3 linked regions of the Homo sapiens genome follow. The gene in region 3 interacts genetically with the main gene of each other region. Each region holds a gene or a part of one and is shown on either strand. Other genes may lie near its edges.

The links.
Region 1: changes in KRAS (region 3) and THOC1 are lethal when combined (synthetic lethality), as found in Homo sapiens cells (4 studies listed by BioGRID, with this or other methods).
Region 2: changes in KRAS (region 3) and HSPD1 are lethal when combined (synthetic lethality), as found in Homo sapiens cells (3 studies listed by BioGRID, with this or other methods).

Annotation. Positions count from the first base shown.
Region 1 is NC_000018.10:222,728-230,448, forward strand, and holds part of THOC1 (THO complex subunit 1), read right to left. Parts: intron 4,175-7,721; coding exon 4,074-4,174; intron 2,677-4,073; coding exon 2,610-2,676; intron 2,413-2,609; coding exon 2,362-2,412; intron 2,268-2,361; coding exon 2,197-2,267; intron 1,474-2,196; coding exon of another isoform or gene 1,453-1,473; coding exon 1,357-1,452; intron 779-1,356; coding exon 713-778; intron 1-712. UniProt on the Homo sapiens protein: Component of the THO subcomplex of the TREX complex which is thought to couple mRNA transcription, processing and nuclear export, and which specifically associates with spliced mRNA and not with unspliced pre-mRNA.
Region 2 is NC_000002.12:197,496,521-197,504,283, forward strand, and holds the start of HSPD1 (60 kDa heat shock protein, mitochondrial), read right to left. Parts: upstream 3,321-7,763; 5' UTR 3,262-3,320; intron 2,331-3,261; 5' UTR 2,329-2,330; coding exon 2,155-2,328; intron 873-2,154; coding exon 620-872; intron 1-619. Other genes in the region: HSPE1-MOB4 protein, read left to right, coding at 3,917-3,919, 4,554-4,718; HSPE1 (10 kDa heat shock protein, mitochondrial), read left to right, coding at 3,917-3,919, 4,554-4,718, 6,519-6,608, 6,689-6,739. UniProt on the Homo sapiens protein: Chaperonin implicated in mitochondrial protein import and macromolecular assembly. Together with Hsp10, facilitates the correct folding of imported proteins.
Region 3 is NC_000012.12:25,226,355-25,234,075, forward strand, and holds part of KRAS (GTPase KRas), read right to left. Parts: intron 1,059-7,721; coding exon 880-1,058; intron 1-879. UniProt on the Homo sapiens protein: Ras proteins bind GDP/GTP and possess intrinsic GTPase activity. Plays an important role in the regulation of cell proliferation.

The sequences.
Region 1 (7,721 bases), on a different chromosome or scaffold from region 3:
TTTGTTGTTCTTGAAGTCAACTGTTAGTTTAACTTTGCTCCTTTGTAGGTTGTCTGTTTTTTCTCTCTGGTGACTTTATTATCATGTACAGAGATATGGATTTATTTGGTTTATCCTCCTTAAGTATTATACTTCTTGAACCTATGAATTCATGCCTATTCTTAATAATTAACTCAATTATTGCCTCTTTCCCATTCTCTATTATTTCTTTCTGCCATCAGATGTTTGCTGGACCTCCTCAACTATCATTAAGTCATCGTTTCTAACTCTGCTCCTTCTGTATTGCTTTCTGGGTGATTTCTTAATCATTAATTAACCCATTAATTCTTACTTTACCTATGTCTAGACTGCTATTAAACTTGCCCATTTTGCAAGTTCAACGAACTTTTGTGACTATTAAAACCCAAGTTCCCTGGTTCTCAAAGCTGGCAATCATTAGTACTGCTGCCCTAGAACCGTATCAGTTCATAGGCTTACTCTTCTGTTTGTAGTTTTGATTCCTTTTGTGAATCTTTATTTTTTTGTGATTTCTAAAATTATTTTATCAGCACTTTGAGGAGTTTTATGGTGGGAAGTTACACGCTGCTGTGCCAAAAGTCAACCACAATAAACTTTTAAATTTCATTTGAGCTCTGATCATAGCTGAGAAAAGGCTCCATTCTACTCAACACTTGACAAAAGCAACACTTCATTTGAAAAATGTTCAACTTGCCTTGTCTCTGATTTACAGGCTTCCATATTATCAGGGCAAAGATTCCAAAGCCTTGTTAACTCCTCACTACAAAATAGACACAGAAATAAATACATTTTTTATGGACACCATCCTCATGTGCCTTGAAACTGAACAGAAAAACAATACAATGTAAACAGTGGATTTGGGGATGTTGACAGTATGAGTTTTACTTTTCTCAATAATTTTTGGTATTTAAAATACCTAAAATTATTCTCTATATGAGCATATAATCATTAATCATGACTAATGATAATGATATAATCTTTAGTTTTTTCTAAAAATATTCCAGCACAATATAAAGCAATGAATAGTTAACTGGAAGGTAAGAGAACTCAAGGATTATGGTACCTTGCAACAACTGGAATCTAAACAATTCTACTGTCTGAAACGGAAAAAATGGCACAGCCTAGAGACACAGATTTTGGAAGCTGGAGACAAAATGAAGGTTTATCTGGTGCATGAACCCACACAATGGGCAGTATAGACAGTGCGGTTTGCTTTGGCTATCTATGTGTGTACCAAACACAATCTCATACTATATTTTGGATGGAGAGTTCTTAAAGTAACATCTTCAAAATATAAAAATAACTAAGAACATCCCACATGAAGACAAATTCACCTACTTTCCCATCAGAATTTTTTTGGTGGGTCCTTTCCCTAGGAAGTCCTCGGGTGCTGTTCTCTTCCGAATTATTCTCGTAGGTTTGGTATCTGATGTTCTGTCGTGAACAAAACATACACTATTTTTTGAATTACAAATGGATAACAGAAATAGAAGAATGTTTAACGTAAAAGAAAATTTAGTTATTGTTTTCCTCTTAAAAAAGATGAAAACTGGCTGGGCATGGTGGCTCATGCCTGTAATCCCAGCACTTTGGGAGGCTGAGGTAGGTGGATCACCTGAGGTCAGGAGTTTGAGACCAGCCTGGCCAACATGGTGAAAGCCTGTCTCTACTAAAAATACAAAAATTAGCCAGGCATGGTGGTAGGCGCCTGTAATCCCAGCAACTCAGGAGGCTGAGGCATGAGAATCGCTTGAACCCAAGAGGCGGAGGCTGCGGTGAGCCAAGATCATGCCACTGCACTCCAGCCTGGGTGACAGAGTGAGACTCCCTCTCAAAAAAAAAAAAAAAATGAAAACTTCATATTATGATAGAACAATTATCAGATATAAGATAAAAATGCCACATTATATGGCAAATTACACGGAGTAGATATACAGTATTCTTCTCAATAATAAGATGTTTGTTCCAGGAATTTAATGACAAGAAATTTATGAGGTTTAAAAAATACAGAGGTAAATCAAAGTGGTTGTACTCTTACAAAGTTCAACTTACATTTTTTATGTGAAATATATACATGTATTTTTACATGCTATAATCATATCGGAGCACATTTTCAAAAGCCTTTCTCGTCGTTCTTGTGATGAGTATGTATTTACCTTTCTTTCAGTATGTATTTACCTTTCTTTCACAAAACTTGGGCAACCTTCATTTTTCCACGAGTTCCAGTTTTCTTCAGTGTTTAATATATGCTGGGAAAAACAAAGCGATTACATTTTGGTTAGTGGAATCCTCTGAAGTTCTATTTCGTGCTAAGAAGAGGATGTAAGCATAAAAAACACATACCTCTACCATCTTTGAAAATCTTTCTCCATCGGGGGGGTTTTCAGATAGTAGCTGTGATTAGAAAGAATATACTAAGCTTTCAACAACTTTCTGCATCATAGGAGTGGTTTGTAGGCAGAGAACCAAGGAGTGTTTGTGGTCTTGTACCTGAGCTTAACTTTATCCTTATTTTCCTATTTGGGGCTGAAACAAAGAAAATCCTAAATTTCCATTTTTTCAATCATGGGTTTGTTGCGTGTTGAACTTACTTGATAAACTGATTTTGTAGTATCTTCAATCCAAAGTGATTGCTCATCAGTTAAAACATAGTTTGAACTAGGGAACAAAGCAATGAAAGCATGCTTGAGTTACAGCAATGCATATGCAACTTTAAGGTTTAAAAAACACAAGGCATGTAACATGTAACTATACTGTGGATAGTGTCAAAAATTACCAAGACAAGAATAATCACAAATGAGAGGATTATAAGAGAAAATTCTTGCACTTCTTCCTCAAGAGGGTTGGTACTGAAGACATAAAAGCATATGCAGGGAATAAAACATTCAATTAATCAATCAGATTCACTATGAACAGAGCAATATATGTTTCCTAAAATAAGCTGAGTGTGAAACGAAAACTTCTGATTTGATATTAAGATATGTGTATACATGATGCACATTCAGTATGGCATGCTACATTAAGATTCATTCAAAATACAACGAATAAAACACCCAAACCCTAGAAAAGGCAACAGGCAAACCCAAATTGTTAATAGCTGCCACTAACTGAGCTCTCATAATGCACTAGGTGATTTAAAGACATCCAATAAATATTGATGGCTAGGATCTGAACACTTTACATACATTATTCATTGAATTCTCGGAACAAGTACATGTACATATTAAACAGAGACTACCGTGTCTCACTGATTTGCCCAAGGCCATAAAGATTTAATTCAAACCCACGTCTCACTTCAAAGTCCCTCATCTTCCTACTATGCTATACCAAACCTCCAAAATAGATAGAAGGATAAGAAATAACATTTTTTGAGTGTTTACCATGTGCTACTACCTTAAAATTACAAGTCTGAAAGAGCTGCACTGCAGCCAGCAAATGACGAGCCTGGGATTCAAACCCAGCAGGTAGTGAAGTCATTATACAACTAATACGGCATTGCTCAGTGTCCTTAACACAAATACCGTTAAGTAACAGTGGGCTCCACCTTCAGTTATGGACAGGATAGGAGGAAATGGATGGAAGTATTTAGATAGACAGTAGAGAGCCTAATGAGGTTTTGTGAAACCCCAAATAAATGAACTCCTTTTTGCTTAAAAATTTTCTTTGCATCTTTTAGCTTGAATGTCCTGCAGAGCTCCACACCTTGTGAGATATGTATTACTGGCTTAGTCTGCAAATCAGCTTTGGAGGAGGTCTGAGGGAGGTGAGAAGGGAATGACGGAATTTTGGAGCAGAGACCTCCACCTGCTAATAAAGACGACAACTCCTGGCAAGCCCTGGAGTTGGGCAGGAAAAACTCACACTGACAGATATATTTAACATCTTTTCCTTAAATATCCTAATATCGAAAAGCCTTCAATGTATCAGCTGCAATACATGTGTTTTAGGGATACAGCCTTAACATGAAATGGACACATACATAAGAAAAATCGTAAGCAAGTCCTTTTTTTTCTTGGCTACTGTTTACAAATTGTTTACTACCCATATTATCTTACCTTTTGAATTTGACCTGCCCCTTGAGATATTGGAATAAAATGAGATACTGCAACAGGATGTGTCGACGAAAGTTACTGTCACTCAGTTGTAAATCCATCAGCTACTCAAGAAACAAGCAAACACATACGAAAACAACACATTAAAATCAAGTTTTTCCTAAAGGTACAAAATGTGCTAATATAGAAATGGAAGATTCCAATTCAATTTAAAAGCCATTTGTTGAGAGTTCACTGCATGTGAGGCATTACCGCACAAGCCCAAAGACAGCCCAGTCAAGGTTTCACTTAGATTTCTTGACTGTTTTATGCCATGACACATTCTTGCTGGTGGATAACAATGATCTATCTATGGTCCAGACATGAGGATAAAATAAAGCAGAAATAGAAAAAAGTAAGCTGGGCATGGTGGCACAAAGCCTATTATAGTCCCAGCTACTCAGGAAGCTGAGAAGGAGGATCACTTGAGCTCAGGAGTTCGAGATCAGTCTGAGCAACATAGCAAGACTCTAAATTTAAAAAAAAAATTTTTTTTTAAAGTAAAACTGAGGCTACTACTTTCTCACATATGAAGAAATAATGGCTAAAGAAGATACGGATAACAGCACAATATCAACGGGGACCACTCATTTTTGTAGCCCTATAAAGTGCCTGCAACAGAGGTATTACTTGACAATAAACAAGAAATTAGAGGTGAAGATCATCTCTGATTAGATGGGCTTTTTTTTTTAGCTTTTAGTGAAAATTGCATCATACTTGTATTATCACAGAATCTGGATTAGAAAGGACTTGAAGGTCACTCATGAGGAAGTTCTTCAACGACCCTGCCATCCAGCTGTAAGAATAACCTGCGGCGATGAAGGAAGGTCATTCTGATTATGTGCATGGAACACTGAAGGAAGGCTGAAGTCTGTATCCACAAACTCATGCTAGTTCTGCCTTCAAAAACTACAGTAACAAAGGAAAGCCACGTTCTTCTAAATGAATCGCCAGTAAGGCAGCTGGAAGCGTCGAAGATTGGTTTTGGTTCAATGTCCCAAGTGCTGGTGGCTCTGCTTTACGTGGTTGGTACCATTTACTAATGCTACCTAACACGCACAAGCCTCCCTATTCACTAGCAACCCCTTCCACACTGTGGCTCCAGGTCTTAAAAAAAAAAATTAATGATCAGCCTTCCAGTCAGGTTTCCCTCACGTTTAAGGATTGAATATATTTGATTGTTATTTATATTAACTCTCCTATCCCAAATTGGAAATGTGAATGGCCGGCCATCAGCCTTCCCTTCCTCCAGCCCCTGGGCAACTTGACTGTCTCCACTCAGGCTGTTAGTTCCTTGCCCTTAACTCCACGGACAGGCCCATCTCTGCTCCAGCTACCCACTACTGTGGCCACAGCTAGACCTGGGGTCACTCACAGCTGCCCCAGATCTGAAGTCTTCAACTCACAATCCTATCTCACCACAACCTCTATCCTTCCCAGGTCTCTCGCTCAGTTGCTTCCAATATACCTAATATTTGGATCTTACCGAGACTTTAAGGCCCTTGACCCGTCTATTCTCTGCCTGTTAGTCCCATCCCATTTTATTATAATCCTATTTTAGTCTAGATAAGGGGTCAGCAAACTTTTTCCTGAAGTGTCAAATAGTAAGTATTTTTATTAATAGGTTATGTGGGCTAAGAGACATATTATGGATATTATGTAGGTATTTAAACATCTAAAATGTAAGGGGGAAAAAAAAACCAAAATCACCAAAAACAACCAACACAGGTGGTGGGCCAGATTTGGCCTATAGGCTATAGTCTGCCAACTCCTGGTCTAGACTTCATGGTTAATCTCTTCGGCCATTTTCTTGCCAACTTCAACACACTTGTCCCATATTTCTTCTGTCATGTCTAGTGAGCAAACAGCAACCTTGAATAAACCAACTGTTAGTCACCTTCTCTATACCAACCCTCAGGATTCCAATCTCAGCTGAAAGTGAGGTGCCTGAGTGAATACCCCAAATTACACAGCTATGCAGAAGGCACCACTGGTATGTTGTCACCACCTTAAACATCTGTTTTTAATCAGCAATCTTTCTTTATTCTTCAAGGCCATTCTCTCTCCTACTCTTCACAGTAATGATTTTCAACCCTTTCCACTTAGCAAAAATACTACTTTACCACCCCTTCTCACTTTCAGTAGATAACTACTTTTGCCTTCAATGAGAAGAAAAATTAAATTGGAAAGCATTTCATTTCTTGGCCCCCAAAATGACAAATCAGCTGCACCTACACCTTTGTTTACTTCATTTCCTTCTGTCACAACTCCTTCACGGCTAAAGGTATTCCATCTGGATTACCTTCCATCTGGAATCCCAATATCCCTAACAATTGAGTTCCATCAACTAACTGCCCTGGTTTCTGTATCTACAACCTATTCTTTCCAAGCTCCTTTCCATAAGCATTAAATAAGCTCCCTCAAAAATCTCCCACATTCTCACCTAACCCTTTAACAGCAAAGCTTCTTAAAATAATTGACTATAGGCACTGTTGCCAATCAGCTCCTCAACCTGCTATCATCTGACCGCCTCATCCACTAATCCATTGAAAGTGTTTTTGTCGGCTGGGTGTGGTGGTTCACGCCTGTAATCCCAGCACTTTGGGAGGCTGAGGCGGGCGGATCACAAGATCAGGAGTTCGAGACCAGCCTGGCCAACATGGTGAAACCCCGTCTCTATTTAAAAAAAAAAAAAATTAGCGGGGCGTGGTGGTGCATGCCCTGTAATTCCAGCTACTCTGGAGGCTGAGGCAGGAGAATAGCTTAAACCTGGGAGGCGGAGGTTGCAATGAGTCCAGACCATGCCACTGCACTCCAGCCTGGGCAGCAGAGCAACAATCGGTCTTGGGGCGGGGGAAGAAAGTGTTTTGTCAAGATCACCAATGACTTATTTGTTGTTAAATCCTGTGAACACTCTTTACTGTCCTCATCCTACTTGATATGCTTGGCTTCCATGAGTGCATGCTTTTCTAGTTTTTCTCTAATCTCACAGGTTACTCTTCAATCTTCTCCTCTTCTCCCTTCATTCTCCCTTAAACATGGGTTTTCTTCGGGATTTCAGTATTTTCTTCTCTTCTGAATCTACACTCTCCCCTTTAGCTCATTTCATACACTCTACAGTTTGAATTACCATTTATAAACTGGTAACTCCTACAACTATACTCTCAACCTAGATCTTGTTCCTAGTCTCCAGCTTTGTACACTAGACAACCTATCACACATCTCTACCTGAATGTTCAACTGACACCTGATCAGATTTCATGAACAAAGTAAAACATCAATTTCCTCCACAAAAGCTGTTCTCCAGCATTGGCTAATTCAATGAGAGGCTCCAACATCCATTTGCCCAAGCAACTCTAGGAAGGCTTCCTGGAGAAAGCAGCATCTAAACTCTCAACAAGGAACAAACCTAAAGGTGGAGAGTGGGGGTTGGGGGATGGGGGTGCAAGAAGGGGAGCCAAATAAGAGACTGGCCTATTTGAAGGACCGAAGTACACAGTTCAATACATCTGGAGTAGAGATGTGAACCCCTAGCTTAAAGAGACGAACCAAAGTGGCTAGGTGATGCTTACTAGCTGTTCATTTTATTTTTTTATGTTGAAAGATTTTCCT
Region 2 (7,763 bases), on a different chromosome or scaffold from region 3:
TCTGCTGATAGGAAAACCAAGTCTTAGCACACAGCTAATAAATGACAAACATGGGACTAGAATTTAAGTCTATACTGCCATGAACCTCATGAGGAGGAGCAAATTGTTAATTAAGTTGCACTCTAGTTACAAGCACTAACAAAACACAAACCAATAACATGGTGTGTGCTATTAAGAAAAAATAAACTGAGGAAAACATTACTTTCTGACATTCTGAATGATCCAGTGTATTTAGTCTTACTTTCTACAAAACTAAACTAAAAATTAGCCAGGAATGGTGGTGAGTGCCTGTAGTAGTCCCAGCTACTTGGAGGCTGAGGCAGGAGGATTGCTTGAGCCCAGGAGTTCCAGTGCAGTCCAGCCTGGGCTACAGAGCAAGACCCTGTCTCTAAAAACAAAAGAAACCAACTAAGTAAAATATCAAAATTACCTAACAGTACCTACCCACCATACAGCCAAGCTTGCTAAAGGAAAACCCAGTTTAAGATTTCTCCAGGCCAAGAGGAGGAATGAGAGAAGGATTAATTTCCTCAAGTTAACACTTTCCTTAGGTCCAAGGAATCAATGCCTTAAAGCACACTGAAGTTTAGAACACTGTGGTGACAACAGACATTCCTACCTCTCCTGATTTCCACTGGATTAGCACCTTTGCTAATCTTCTCGAAGCCTTCCTTGGCTATAGAGCGTGCCAGTACAGTAGCAGTGGTAGTGCCATCCCCAGCTTCTTCATTTGTGTTATTGGCAACATCTTGAACAAGTTTAGCTCCAATGTTTTTGTATTTATCTTTTAAGTCAATTGACTTTGCAACAGTCACACCATCTTTTGTTACTTTGGGACTTCCCCAACTCTGCTCAATAATCACTGTTCTTCCCTAGAAGAAAAAAATGTAACAGGATCAGACATACCCTAAGGATGATTTACATTTTTAAAAATGAGCAGTCTTCATAATAAAGCAACTACTTCAAAGTCTCAACGTAAGTTGTGTCATTTTTATCAGTCTTGCAGCATGAACCTCAAGGGCAAGTTTATCGACATTCTTTGTCTACAGACAAAATGACCTGATTCTCTGCCAAGAGCATAATTTTGAACTAGGTAATTTAGGAGATTAAAATCCTAGGGACTAAAACTTGTCATCTTATAAAATGAACAAGAACACAAGACAAAGAATAAAACAATCTTCCTATCACTTATACTTTAGTTAGTGCCTGTTATCTTTTAAAGTAATGTGACTTGTTTTAAAATCCGTTTAACTAAAATATTAACCATCAAGGCAAGTAGCGTGCTCTTCCAGGTTCACGCAACATAAAACTTCAACCATGGCACAATTATTGGCCATCCTTTGGATTTGAACTAAAGCTGCTACTTTCTATTTGTGAGGTGTGCAAATGTTGTATTTTAGGCAGTTGTTGGATCACTTGATATCTGAACTGTCTTCAAACTGAAATGAAGCACCACTTGACTGCACACCACCTTCAAAGGCCTCCTCAAAACATTACCCCTATTAAATGAGACTTATTTTAAATATGCTTTGGAACAAGAGAACAGCAGAAAACCGATGGGTAAAACTAGCATCTTGGGGTGGAGGAGAGAATGGGAAGCTACTGTCTAATGAGTACAAAGTTACAATTTTTCCATATAAAAAGTTTTGGAGATGGATGGTGGTGATGACTGCACAACATAAATGTAATTGATGTCCCCAAAGTGCACACTTAATGGTAATTTTATGTTGTGTACATTTTACTACAATAAACCAAAAAAAAATTTAGCATCTACAAGCACATACCTAAGGAATTATGGAAGATAAGTTAAACTCTTCTCTCTACACTTGGCATGAACTACTGGGAAAGGATCCAAATTTTAACTTAAGCCAGCGAAATTCTACCTCGAGTTTAAGAATCCACCTTGAGCTGTAAGTTACTACCTGATTACATCACACATTGAACAAAATAGTTTCGAAAATCTGGCTGAAGCAGTTTAAGCTTTAAGATCATGTCTAAGAAAAAAAGGCTAACCAATACTTCAGAATTCTTACATGTAAACTGAGTTCTCTCAAAAATGGAGATGAAAGTACTGTTGAATAGTTCAGTGCGACTATTTGTGAGTAAAATGCTATTAATAATACCGTAATTACAATAAAATAAAAATACTGGTACCTTTGGCCCCATTGTAACGGCCACAGCATCGGCTAAAAGGTCTACACCTTGAAGCATTAAGGCTCGGGCATCTGCACCAAATTTTACATCTTTGGCATAAGCCCGAGTGAGATGAGGAGCCAGTACCCTGGACACCGGTCTCATCTGGCGAAAGACTGTGGGTAACCGAAGCATTTCTGGGGATGGAAGCAAAAAGATCATCAGAACTACCACCCGTGGTGCGCTGCAGAACAAACATGCCCACCTGTGCAACAGAGCAAGCAACGTGAGATGCTGAGCCTGGCTGACCTCCGCCAGCCACTACGCCTGAATGACGGAAGGCGCCGCAGCTTCGGAACATCAGCCACTAGCGCAAGCTAAAGAGGCCGCCCCGGCCGGCGCCTGACCTATAGCACCAGCACAAAGCACATGCGGCTCCTTCCCCACGGCCACCTATCCCTGCCGCCAAAAACGAGTTAATCTTTCACCGCGAAAACGGCCTTGTGGGCAGACCCACTCCAACTGTGGCCCCTGAGAAACCAAGTCAGCCGGAGAGAGGCAAGTTACAAATCCAAGTGACCAGGGAAGTTAAAAGTATTCCTGACGGTGCAAAAAGCCGCTCAGCAAAGTGTCTCCATGGATCCACCCAAGGCTACTGTATCAGAGCAACCAGCAAGGCCGCGATGCTGGGGGCGGCGGCCCGGCCCACTCGGCGCGAGCCCACGTGTCCTTCTTTCCGAACGCCCCCAGCAAGGTCAAGACTGGAGGCGCGGTATCCCAGCTGCCTGCGGGGGAAAAAAGCGGTTCCCTCACGTACACCACCCTCCCCGGTTCCCTGAAGTCGGCCAGGCGCAGGTTGCACCAGCGGGCCTAAGTGGTTACAATCCCCCAAATTCAAACCCCACGAGTTGTCCCTCCCGCGCCCAGCCGAGGTCCAGGATCCGCGTCGCACGTGATGGAACCCGCATGGACCCGCGAGGCCTGGACCCGCAGGCCTGGGCCTGCGGTGCGGCGCGGTGCGGAACTCCAGGTTGTCGCCGCCCGCACCCTCCAGCTGGACCGCAGAGGAGGAAGGCCCACTCGGGGGTCGCAGGAGCCGGGGGGAGGTGGTGCGGGAAGGCCGCGTACCTGCGGGGCGGCGGCAAGGCGTGCGCTCGGCGAGACAGGTCGTCGGCGGCGAGTGAGGGACAGAGTGCAGGGCGCACACCGCAATGAGCCCGTGTCCCCTCCCTCCGCCTCTACTCCCGCCCCGCGGCACCGCGTGTGCAGGCAGCTCCCACCCACTTCCCGTCAGCCCGGGCCCTGCAATCTGCACACCCTGCGCGCGAGCCCCGCCCCTCCCTACCCGCGCAGGGTGTGCTAGCGCGCTCAGCCCTCTCCGGCCGGCTTAGTCTAGTTCCCGGGCCTCGCTCGGTTCCAGAACTTTCCAGAAAATGCCGCGCTCCCTACGGCTCAAGGGTCAAATCGCGTCATTTCCGGGAGGGGACGAAGGGGTAGTTCTTTCACCTCGGCTGGGCGCCTAGAAAAGCCTAGAAACAGCTCCTTTTTTCTTCCGCCTCCGAGTCTTCGCGTCAGCGTCCTGCGCAGGGCCCTTGGGGCGAATCGCGGTGCGCGTCGGGGCGACCGCCCTCCCTCCCTGGGAGGGGCGAGGGGGCTAGCGGCGACCGCTGGGGCGAGCGCGCCTGCGCGCTGGGTGATTTTTTCACGTGTCGCCAGGGCCGGACTGCGAGTCTCTTTGCGGCGCTACACTAGAGCAGAGTACGAGTCTGAGGCGGAGGGAGTAATGGTGAGTCCCGCGTGGCCCCGAGGCCTGCAGGCCCGGGCCTGTCTGAGGCGTACGGGGATCCCTGACGCCCCTCTTTTGTTGGGCTGGGCGGGAGGGATTGGTGGCCACTCAGTGACCAGCGCCCGATGGCACCTTGGAGCGGCAAGGCCCGCCCGACCCTTTTCTCCCCCAGGGCTCTTTGCACGCGCGTGTGCTGCCGGTGTGTAAGGCAGGGGGGCGAGAACCCGGGCGCACGCGCAGCGTCTCACCTGCTTCTGCAGGGCCTTTGTGGATGTGTAATATCTTGGGTAAAAATCATGGTGCCAGGCAGGGAGCTTGACCCAGCGTTTCCTGAAAATTTCTGGAAAAACCTGAAGAAGGAAAACATTTGACCTTGGAATAAACTAAGGTTGACCTTAAAGCTGGTCTGGTTGCTCACCGGAGGAGCGACAACGACCCCTAACAGACGTAAGGAATCGGGAATTAAACTTGGAATATTGGTTAGTACATTCAAATGCGCTTCCTTAACGAATAAGCTGAGGTTTGGTGTTAACTTTCAAAGCCAAAACGTGTTGAGATGTATAGCACGGTGGCGTTGCCTGTTGATAATGTGATTACATTTAGTTTTTGTTTCAAAACATTTCTCTTCCTACAGGCAGGACAAGCGTTTAGAAAGTTTCTTCCACTCTTTGACCGAGTATTGGTTGAAAGGAGTGCTGCTGAAACTGTAACCAAAGGAGGCATTATGCTTCCAGAAAAATCTCAAGGAAAAGTATTGCAAGCAACAGTAGTCGCTGTTGGATCGGGTTCTAAAGGAAAGGTAAATGGGAGCTGCAGTGGAACTATTTTTTATAGTGTGCAGTGGAGGGAAAAGAAGTAATTCTGGAGTATTAAAAGTCGCTTATTAAGTAGAGTTTATGTCGTTTTCAAGATCATTAACTGCTTTGGTTCTAATCTGTTTCTTAAAGGGAAATGACTAATATAAAGTTGCTTATTTTATATGACCAATGCTATGATGCTTATTTTATGTGATAGTTTCAGAGTATTAAAAATTGTCCTCAATAGGCCGGGTGCGGTGGCTCTCGCCTGTAATCTCAGCACTTTGGGAGGCCGAGGTGTGCGGATCACAAGGTCAGGAGTTCAAGACCAGCCTGACCAACATGGTGAAACCCCGTCTCTACTAAAGATACAAAAATTAGCCGGGTGTGGTGGCATGCGCCTGTAATCCCAGCTACTGGGGAGGCTGAGGCAGGAGAATCATTTGAACCCTGGAGGCGGAGGTTGCAAGGAGCCGAGGTTGCAAGGCGCCCCTGCATTCCAGTATGGGGGACAGGGCGAGATTCTGTCTCAAAAAAAAAAAAAAAAAATCCCCTCAATAGCAATTTGGTAGCCTAGTGTGATCAGTGTTTGCCTTACATTCTAAATTTTTAATAAGACAAAAGAGGCTGTGCGTGGTGGCTCACACCTGTAATCCTTGCATTTTGGGAGGCCAAAGCAGGAGGATCGTTTGAGCTCAGGATTCAAAATCAGGAGTTCAAAATCAGTCTGGGCAACATAATGAGACCTCCTGTCTACAAAATAAATAAATACAAAAGATGTGCTTCAAGGTAAAATGAGGGGGCATTTAAGAATTGAGAGGAAACTTGGACTGTTCGTTTAACCCCTAACACATTGAAATTGCCCTAATCTTAACCAGTTGGTATACCTGGTTGTATACCTACCAGAGGAACAGGTTGGTCAGTCTTGTCCAATCTGCAGCCTGGGACAGCTCTGAATGCCGCCTAACGCAAATCCCTAAACTTTCTTAAAACCTGATATTTCTTTTGCAATTTTTTTTAAGCTTACCAGCTACTGCTAATGTTAGTGTATTTTATGTGTGGCCCAACACAGTTCTTCCAGTGTGGCCCAGGGAAGCCAAAAGATTGCACACCTCTGTTTTAGATGTTCCTCAGTTAATTGTTTAGGCCTCGGGCTTCTAAAGATCTCAGCCAAAATACACAGTAAACGCCGTTGGGGCCAAATAATGTTAACTGCATTGTTCTAGTTGCTTCTGAGGAGGAAAGCTCTACTGAGGAGCTGTCATGGAGTTAGGAATAGGAAGACTTTGGGGAGTGGACACTTAGCTGCAGTCCCTTTCCCCAAATCTGTTCTTTGGAGGGAACAAAACAATCACAAGAGTATGTTCTAAATCCAAAAAAACTTTAAATTTTTGTATGTTGAAAGAAGGAAAATATGACCATTTGTATATGGCATTTTCTGGGTGCTGGCTACTGTTGCAGGTTTATTTCATATAGTTGATAAGTTATGTTAATATTTAACAGTTATAAAGTTAGCTTTAGTTAACTAAAGTTAGCTTTTCCAGAATATTTTCTTGAACTTTTACGTTGGAGTCAGGTTTTAGTTTAAGCCACTGTGTATTATTTCAAAGTGTAACTACAGTGGTATTTTTGAGTGAAGATCTGTAATTCTAGTATGAGTCGTATCACTTAGCCACGAAATATATTTTTAATATAATTGGATTTGAGTGACCATGTTTCATTAGTTGTAGTGATTTAAAAGTTAACTGTTTATGTTGGGTGAACTAGATATCTTTGCTAATAAACATCCTTCCTTTTTTAAGGGTGGAGAGATTCAACCAGTTAGCGTGAAAGTTGGAGATAAAGTTCTTCTCCCAGAATATGGAGGCACCAAAGTAGTTCTAGATGACAAGGTGTGTAAACTTAATAATTCTAAAAAGAAGTCAGATATTTGCAATTAGTTGTCTTAACTAATGGTTTTTTTCACTTGCAGGATTATTTCCTATTTAGAGATGGTGACATTCTTGGAAAGTACGTAGACTGAAATAAGTCACTATTGAAATGGCATCAACATGATGCTGCCCATTCCACTGAAGTTCTGAAATCTTTCGTCATGTAAATAATTTCCATATTTCTCTTTTATAATAAACTAATGATAACTAATGACATCCAGTGTCTCCAAAATTGTTTCCTTGTACTGATATAAACACTTCCAAATAAAAATATGTAAATGAGTGGTTAATCTTTAGTTATTTTAAGATGATTTTAGGGTTTTCTAGTTTATGCTTTTTTTCTGTTTTTCAAGTAACCTGCAGAGAATTTTGGGAAACAGGATTTTCTACGTAGGTGCATTTTCACACTGAATTTAGCTTTATTAATACATGATTGATACTGATACCAAGCCATGGATTTACTTTTTTTTTTTTTTTTTCTGAGACGGATTCTCACTCTGTCACCCAGGCTGGAGTGCAGTGGTTCAATCTTGGCTTACTGCAACCTCCGCCTTCTGGGTTCAAGTGATTCTCCTCCCTCAGCCTCCAGAGTACCTGGGATTACAGGCGTGCACCACCATGCCCAGCTAATTTTTGTGTTTTTAGTAGAGACAGGTTTTGCCATGTTGCCCAGGCTAGTCTCAGACTCCCAAAGTGCTGGGATTACAAGCGTGAGCCACCACAGCAACATTCAGATTTCAAATATAACAAGCTAACGAGTTACAGGTCTTAAGGTGTTCAATACTTTGTGGATACAGGTCTTCATTCCTAACTCCAATTTATATAAATACAGAGCATTTTTTGCATGGTTTAATGTATACTGAATTCCCAGGTACACAAGTACCATGTAAATTGAGGGAAGAATTATACTTTCCATTTTTTTCTTTTTTTTTTTTTGTGGAGACAGTCTCACTTTGTCACCCAGGTTGGAGTGCACTGGCACTGTCATGGCTCACTGTAGCCTCCACCTTCTTCCCAGGCACAGGTGATCCTCCCACGTCCGCCTCCTTGAGTGACTGGGATTACAGGCATGCACCACCATGCCCTGCTAATTTTTGTATCTTTTGTAGAGATGGG
Region 3 (7,721 bases):
AGGTGACTTTCAAAGACACAGCACAAAAGAAGGAGCAGAGCAGACAACAGAGTCAGAATTGGCTCAAATTCCCGGTTCCGAACACCATTAGCTGGGTAAACTTGGATAATAGAGCTGAAATTTGGTAACTCCTCTATAAAAATACTACCACTACCACCCACCCAAATGTCTTTTCCTCTATTACTAGACTATACAGTAAACATGCTGTAACAATGTTCTTAAATAAAATGTTAAACTTCTTATAACTAGGCTAACTCGTTATTATATGACATAGCCACTGAGTGATTCATTTGCTTAATATGTAGTTTTTGGAAAACTAAACCCTCAAAGAAATAGAATATAAAATAGTATAATAATGATTATTTTAATAGTTTTATGCAGCTTTGTCAGATTTAAGAGAACTGTAATGCCCAAATTCTTCAATCTTTCAAAACTTTTATTTTTTAAAATATATAATGCCACTGTTTATCCAATCCAAGCAATTCTATGCTATACACACGATTGCTTTTAAGACTGTTAAAGTGACACCATCTCAAATCATCTTTTCATATTCTTTTTTATGGTTTTCTTTTTTAATGATGTATCTAAAAAGTTTAAAGTCTTGCTTTTGTAGAATAGTCAAGAGTACAGAAGGCTGTGGAGTCAAACAGGCCTAGGTTTCAATCCCAGCACCACCACTACCGATGCAGTCTGGAGCAAGTTACTCCACTGCTCTAATCCCCCAAGAACTTCATTTATAAAACAGGGATATTACCTACCTCATAAACATTATTTAAAAATTTTTATTAAATATTATATGCATGGCATTAGCAAAGACTCAAAAAATAAAAACTATAATTACTCCTTAATGTCAGCTTATTATATTCAATTTAAACCCACCTATAATGGTGAATATCTTCAAATGATTTAGTATTATTTATGGCAAATACACAAAGAAAGCCCTCCCCAGTCCTCATGTACTGGTCCCTCATTGCACTGTACTCCTCTTGACCTGCTGTGTCGAGAATATCCAAGAGACAGGTTTCTCCATCAATTACTACTTGCTTCCTGTAGGAATCCTGAGAAGGGAGAAACACAGTCTGGATTATTACAGTGCACCTTTTACTTCAAAAAAGGTGTTATATACAACTCAACAACAAAAAATTCAATTTAAAAATGGGCAAAGGACTTGAAAAGACATTGTTCCTGCTCCAAAGATGACGGACAAATGGCCACTAAGCACCTGAAAAGATGCTCAACATCATCAATAGTCAGGAAAATAAAATCAAAACCATGAGATGCTACCACATACCCATTAGGATTGGCTATTATTAAAAAAACAAAACAAAAAAACTCAAAAAATGGAAAATAAGTGTTAGCAAGGATACAGACACTGAAATCTTTGTGCATTGCTGGTGGGAATGTAAAATGGTGATGCCATTGTGGAAAACAGTGGTAGTTCCTCAAAAAGTTAAACACAGAATTACCATATGATCAGCAATTCCATTCCTAGGTATATAACCAAAATAACTAAAAACAGGGACTCAAACAGATACATGTACACCAATGTTCGCAGCAGCACTATTTATAATACCCAAAATGTGGAAATAACTTAAGTGTCTGTTAACAGATGAATGGATAAACAAAATGTAGTATATACATACAGTGGAACATTATTCAGCCATAAAAAGGAATAAAATTTCATATAGGTTGAGCATTAATGCAGGTTAATCCAAAAATCTGAAATCCAAAATGCTCCAAAACCTGTAACTTTTAGAGCCTGACATGATGCTAAAAGGAAATGCTCACTGGAGCATTTGATTTTGGATTTTTTTTTCTTTCATCTTTTTTTTTTTTTTTTTTTTTTTGGAGAGATAGGGTCTTGTGTTGCTCAGGCTGGTTGAACTCCTGGGCTCAAGCGATCCTCCTGCCTTGGCCACCCAACGTGTTGGGATTACAAGCATGAGCCACTGAGCTCCATCTGATTTTGGATTTTTGGACGAGGGATGCTGAACCAGTTAAGTATCTATGAATATTCCAAAATCCAAAAAAAAAATCTGAAATCCAAACCACTTCTGGTCACAACCATTTTGGATAACGGATGCTTCAACCTGTATATACATGCTACAACACAGATGAACCTTGAAAACATTATGCTAAATGAAGTAAGCCAACACAAAAGGACAAATACCACATAATTCCACTTATATGAGGAACCTAAAATAGGCAAATTCAAAAAGACGAAAAGTAGACTACAGATTACCAGGGGCTGGGGGAGGGAGGATTACTGGGGACTATTTGACAGGTACAGAATTCTAATTTGGGATGATAAAAAAAAGTTCTCAAAACAGATAGTGCTAATGGTTAGACAACATGGTGATGGTTGCACAACATTATGAACACACTTAAGGTCACTGAATTGAACACTTAAAATTAACTACCATGGTCTAGGCGCGGTGGCTCACACTTGCAATCCCAACACTTTGGGAGGCCGAGGTGGGCGGATCATGAGGTCAGGAGATCAAGAACATCCTGGCCAACATGGTGAAACCCCATCTCTATTAAAATACAAAATATTAGCCGGGCGTGGTGGCGGGCGCCTGTAGTCCCAGCTACTCAGGAGGCTGAGGCAGGGGAATTGCTTGAACCCGGGAGGCGGAGGTTGCAGTGAGCCAAGATCGCTCCACTGCACTCCAGCCTGGCAACAGAGCAAGGCTCCGTCTCAAAAAAACAAAAACAAAACAAATGAAAGAAAACTACCATGGTAAACTTTATGTTATGCATATTTTACCACAAAAAAAAATTTTTTAAAGGTATTATATGGAGAGTCAACAATGCAAGTGTACATGCTGGTAACAAAAAGTTATTGACAAAACAAAATAATTTCAAAAATGGGATAGCTCTACCAACTCTATTATTCAAGATGATTTAAATGACAAGAAAAATCAATCAACTTATAAATAATTGTCATGCATCTATTTTATCTATAGTCAAAGGCACACATAAGGAAATGGGCAATACTCAAGATTCTAATGGCCTCATCCACTTCTGAAAACTGTGGAAAAATAATCTAACAGCCAGATGGATATCTCTAAAGAGCAATATTGTTTCATCTGCAAATCCTGAGGGGCCTCTTTTTTCTTTTCTAAAAAGAGAGAGAACTGCAACTATAAGATTAAGTAAAAGAAGGGAGTGGGTAACTTTAACAGAATCTTGAAATAAAAATCTGATTTTCTTCTGACTTTTGGGTAATACTTCTGCTCAAGATTTCACACATTCTGCCAAAACAGTCCTCAAAAAATATGGTAAAGGGATGTTACAATGTGAAGCCATGAAATCATGAAATAAGAAGCAGGGCTAACAACAGGTATAAAGCATAAACATAAAAGCAATTATTTTCTTAATGTTCCACATGTAGGCTATAGTATTAATGTATCTTTTTTTTTTTTTTTTGAGATGGAGTCTCGCTCTGTCGCCCAGGCTGGAGTGCTGTGGTGCAATCTCGGCTCACTACAACCTCTGCCTCCTGGGCTCGAGTGATTCTCCTGCCTCAGCCTCTTGAGTAGCTGGGATTCTAGGTGCACGCCACCACGCCCGGCTAATTTTTGTACTGTTTTTTTAGTAGAGATGGGGTTTCACCATGTTAGTCAGGCTGGTCTCTAACTCCTGACCTCGTGATCTGCACGCCTCAGCCTCTCAAAGTGCTGGGATTACAGGCATGAGCCACTGCGCCCAGCCTCTAAAGTATGTTTAGTTTATGAATTACTCTGTAGACCATTCTATCAGAGGGAGAAAGAGAGAAAGAATGGTCATTACAAATGTTGTTAGTAAAGTATTTCAAAATGTTTACAGTATAAGGAGAATATAAAGATGTCTAAGTGCAGCATGATCACAATAATATGTGTTTATGTATTTATACAAATCTACTATGTGTTTAAAAACTGGTAATATATACATCAAAATGTTATAAAGGTTATGTCTTTAATGGAGATAATTTAAAAGACATTTATCTTGGCCGGGTGCGATGGCTCATGTCTGTAATCCCAGCACTTTGGGAGGCCAAGGTGGGCAGATCACCTGAGGTCGGGAGTTTGAGATCAGCCTGACCAACACGGAGAAACCCCATCTCTACTAAACATACAAAATTACCTGGGCCTGGTGGTGCATGACTGTAATCCCAGCTACTCGGGAGGCTGAGGCAGGAGAATCACTTGAACCCGGGAGGTGGAGGTTACGGTGAGCTGAGATTGTGCCATTGCACTCCAGCCTGGGCAACAACAGCAAAACTCTGTCCCAAAAAAGACATTTATCTCTTGCTTATCTCTTTTCTTTGTACTAGATGCTATGTTAAATGTTTTTCTTTGGTTTTCAATTTTTTAAAGTATGAAAACCTACATATTAGACTATAATTTTGTGCTTATCTTTTAAAGCATATGGTATTTTCCAAACCATCTGTAATAAAAATTAATTATCTCACCAGTCAGAAAAAAAAGATGGATATTTATTTTCTAAATAAGAGGCTCTTTAGTAGAGATTTGAGCATTCAGTTGACATTTACTTAATTTAGCCTATTCTCTTATTAAATACTTGAAAGAACTCCTATAGATCACAAATTAAAAACCATTCTAAAGAGTAATGAAAAAGCAGGAGGTGGGAGCAAAGCACAGAGTCTTAGAGTCAACCCATTACCCAGGCATGGCTACAGAGCATGTAAAGCTGACCAAAGACTCTTCCTACCTATTGCTGCCACCTCACATTCTTTTTTTTTTTTTTTTTTTTTTTTTTTGAGATGGAGTCTTGCTCTGTTGCCTAGGCTGGAGGGCAGTGACACGATCTCGAGTCACTGCAACCTCCGCCTCCCAGGTTCAAGCGATTCTCCTACCTCAGCCTCCTGAGTAGCTGGGACTACTGGCACGTGCCACTGTGTCCAGCTAATTTTTGTATTTTTAGTACAGATTGGCCAGGCTGGTCTTCAACTCCTGACCTCAGGTGATCCGCCTCGGCCTCCCAAAGTGCTGGGATTACAGGCGTCAACCATCGCGCCCAGCCTGTCACCTCACATTCTTTACTTACCAATGTAGGCTGAGTATCCCTACTCTGAAAAACCAAAATCCAAAAATACTTCTAGGTCCTAAGCATTTCAGATAAAGAATAGTCAACCTGTAATGTGGGATATTAGTAGTTTATGTACATATTTCATAAGATGCTTCCATGGTGAATACACCAGTGCGACCGAGAAACTGGGAAAGCAGTCCCCTATTCACTGATAAATCTCATTCCTATTATCTTTTCCCTACCAGACCTTAAAAATATCGATAGCAAAGTTCTGAGACACATTCCGTTTCAAAGTAATCTATAACCTACTCATAAATAATACTGTTGATTAGAAATAAAAGGTTTAGGTTAAAAATTCAGTATTTTTAGAGTTAATTTTAACTAGGGTCCTCACTCTTAGAAGTGCAATTAGTCACTGAGCTATTTTCAGTGCAACTTGGTAAAAACTAAAGAAGAAAAAGTGTTAAATGAAATACGATCTAAAAAGAATGGATAAATATAAAGAGAAAACAAACGCAACAAAAATTATATATTAATAAAGATTCTGTTCCAACTTCAGGTCAGGCCATAAGAAACAGTCATCCCTGGTATACACACGGCATTGGTTCCAAGACCCCCCCAGCCTCTAGTCCTACAGTTGGCCCAGGAACATCCAGGTATATGAAAAGTCAGCCCTCCATATCTGCATTTGGTTGGGAAAAAAACGTGTATCACAAGTGGACCCATGGTCACTCAAACGCATGTTGTTCAAGGGTCAACTGTATTTGGAGGAAGAAAAAAAAATATGCATCAATGTAGACTCTTTCAAAAAATTTAGAGTCTAAATAAGGTTTCAGCAAGCTACTGCCCACAGGCCAAATCTTGCCCACTGTTTTTGTATTGCCCATTAGCTAGGAATAGTTAAATAGCTGTTTAAAAAAACAAAAACAAAAACCCAAGACTTTGTGACAAAGACCCATATGGCCCTTTATAGAAAAGTTTGCCAACTCCTGCTGTAAGTTAATAACTCTTCACATTATTTGAAGTATTCTCAACAAATATTATTTATTCTCTTTATATATTTTTTTAAATTTACCACTCTGAGAAAGTACTGGTTATGAAAACCCATCTGATTTTAAAACACAGAGATTCTGTAATGAAACTAGTTAATAATGGAGCAAAGACAAGGATGAAGGTGTTACGTTTTTAATTAGTATTTCCAGCCTTTCAAAAAAGTAAACTTTTAAATTAGGTACATAAGTTACCAAGGTTACTAATTTGTAGCCTTAGGAAACTACGATAAAATAAAGTAACTTAAACTAACTCACAATAAAATATTAAATGAAGGAAAGTTATTCCCCATAGTCCCCCCACTCCCAGCTAAAATATTATTTTTTCCATCTACATAGTAAAAAATTTTTCTAAATGAAATGTACTATACTGGCAAGACTGAATTGTAGACAGAATTCAAACATTTCTGGTGACATAATAAGCACAATATTTTTGGAAAGCAATTACAGTATTTATCTAAAGTCATTCAAATGTTCATAGCCTTTGACATAGTAATGTTACTATGGGAAATTATGCTAAGAAAATATGTGGTTTTTTTTTAAATGACAGTTATAAAGAGATTCTTAACATGGCATCCTAAAATGTCTTACAAAGAAAATTTACTTAAGCATTTAAAACTGACCCATAATCTTGCACCATTTACCTATCTTCAAAATATATCCTACATCCAACCACCTACCACCACCACCACCACCATCCCCCTAGTCCATGATAACTATTTTGTCTCAGGCAATCTGCAGCAATTGCTTCCTAGCAGGTATCCCTGCTGTTAATCTCACAATATAGTCTCCACACAGCAGCAAGTGATAGTTTATAAATGTAGGTTAGGGCTAGGCACCATGGGCTAGGCACCTATAATCCCAACACCTTGGGAGGCCGAGACAGGTGGATCACCTGAGGTCAAGAGTTCAAGACCAGCCTGGCCAACATGGTAAAATCCCATCAAAAATACAAAAAATACAAAAAAAAATTAGGTGTGGTAGTGTGTACCTGTAGTCCCAGCTATTTGGGGAGCTCAGGTGGGAGGACTGCTTGAGCCAGGAAGGAAGAAAATGAATGAATGAATGAATGAACGAAGGTAGGTTAGATCATGTCATTCACTTGCTCAAAGTCCTCCAATAGCACTCTTCGGTCTTAAAAATAAAAATGCAAAGCACTCTTCCTTCTCTGGTACCTCCTATGTTTCCTTCATAGCATGTATTATAATTTGTAATTATGTATTTACTTGTGAAATTGTTTAAGTCTATATCCTCTACTAGGCTTTAAACTCCGTGTTGGTAGGGCTCACGCCTGTTGTACTCACCACTACACACCCTCTACCTAACAGTCTTGAACGCTATAGGTAATTAGTACTGCCTCTTAAATAAGTGAATGAATCCATTTGATGTAAATATATGCAGATACTAAAAAATGAATGGAAATTTTATTAGAATTAAGCAGTTAACATAAATACAATTTAACAGATTTTTCAATTATATAATACAAATCCTTCTCAAATATTCTGAAGATACTACATATTTGAAATGAATGTTCACGACAAATGCCCCACTTTCAATGTAACAGTGTGCAAAGGCAGATTTTTTAATCTTTCAACAATTTGTTTTAAAATCTATGTTTCAATGTTCTCTTAGAAAAAC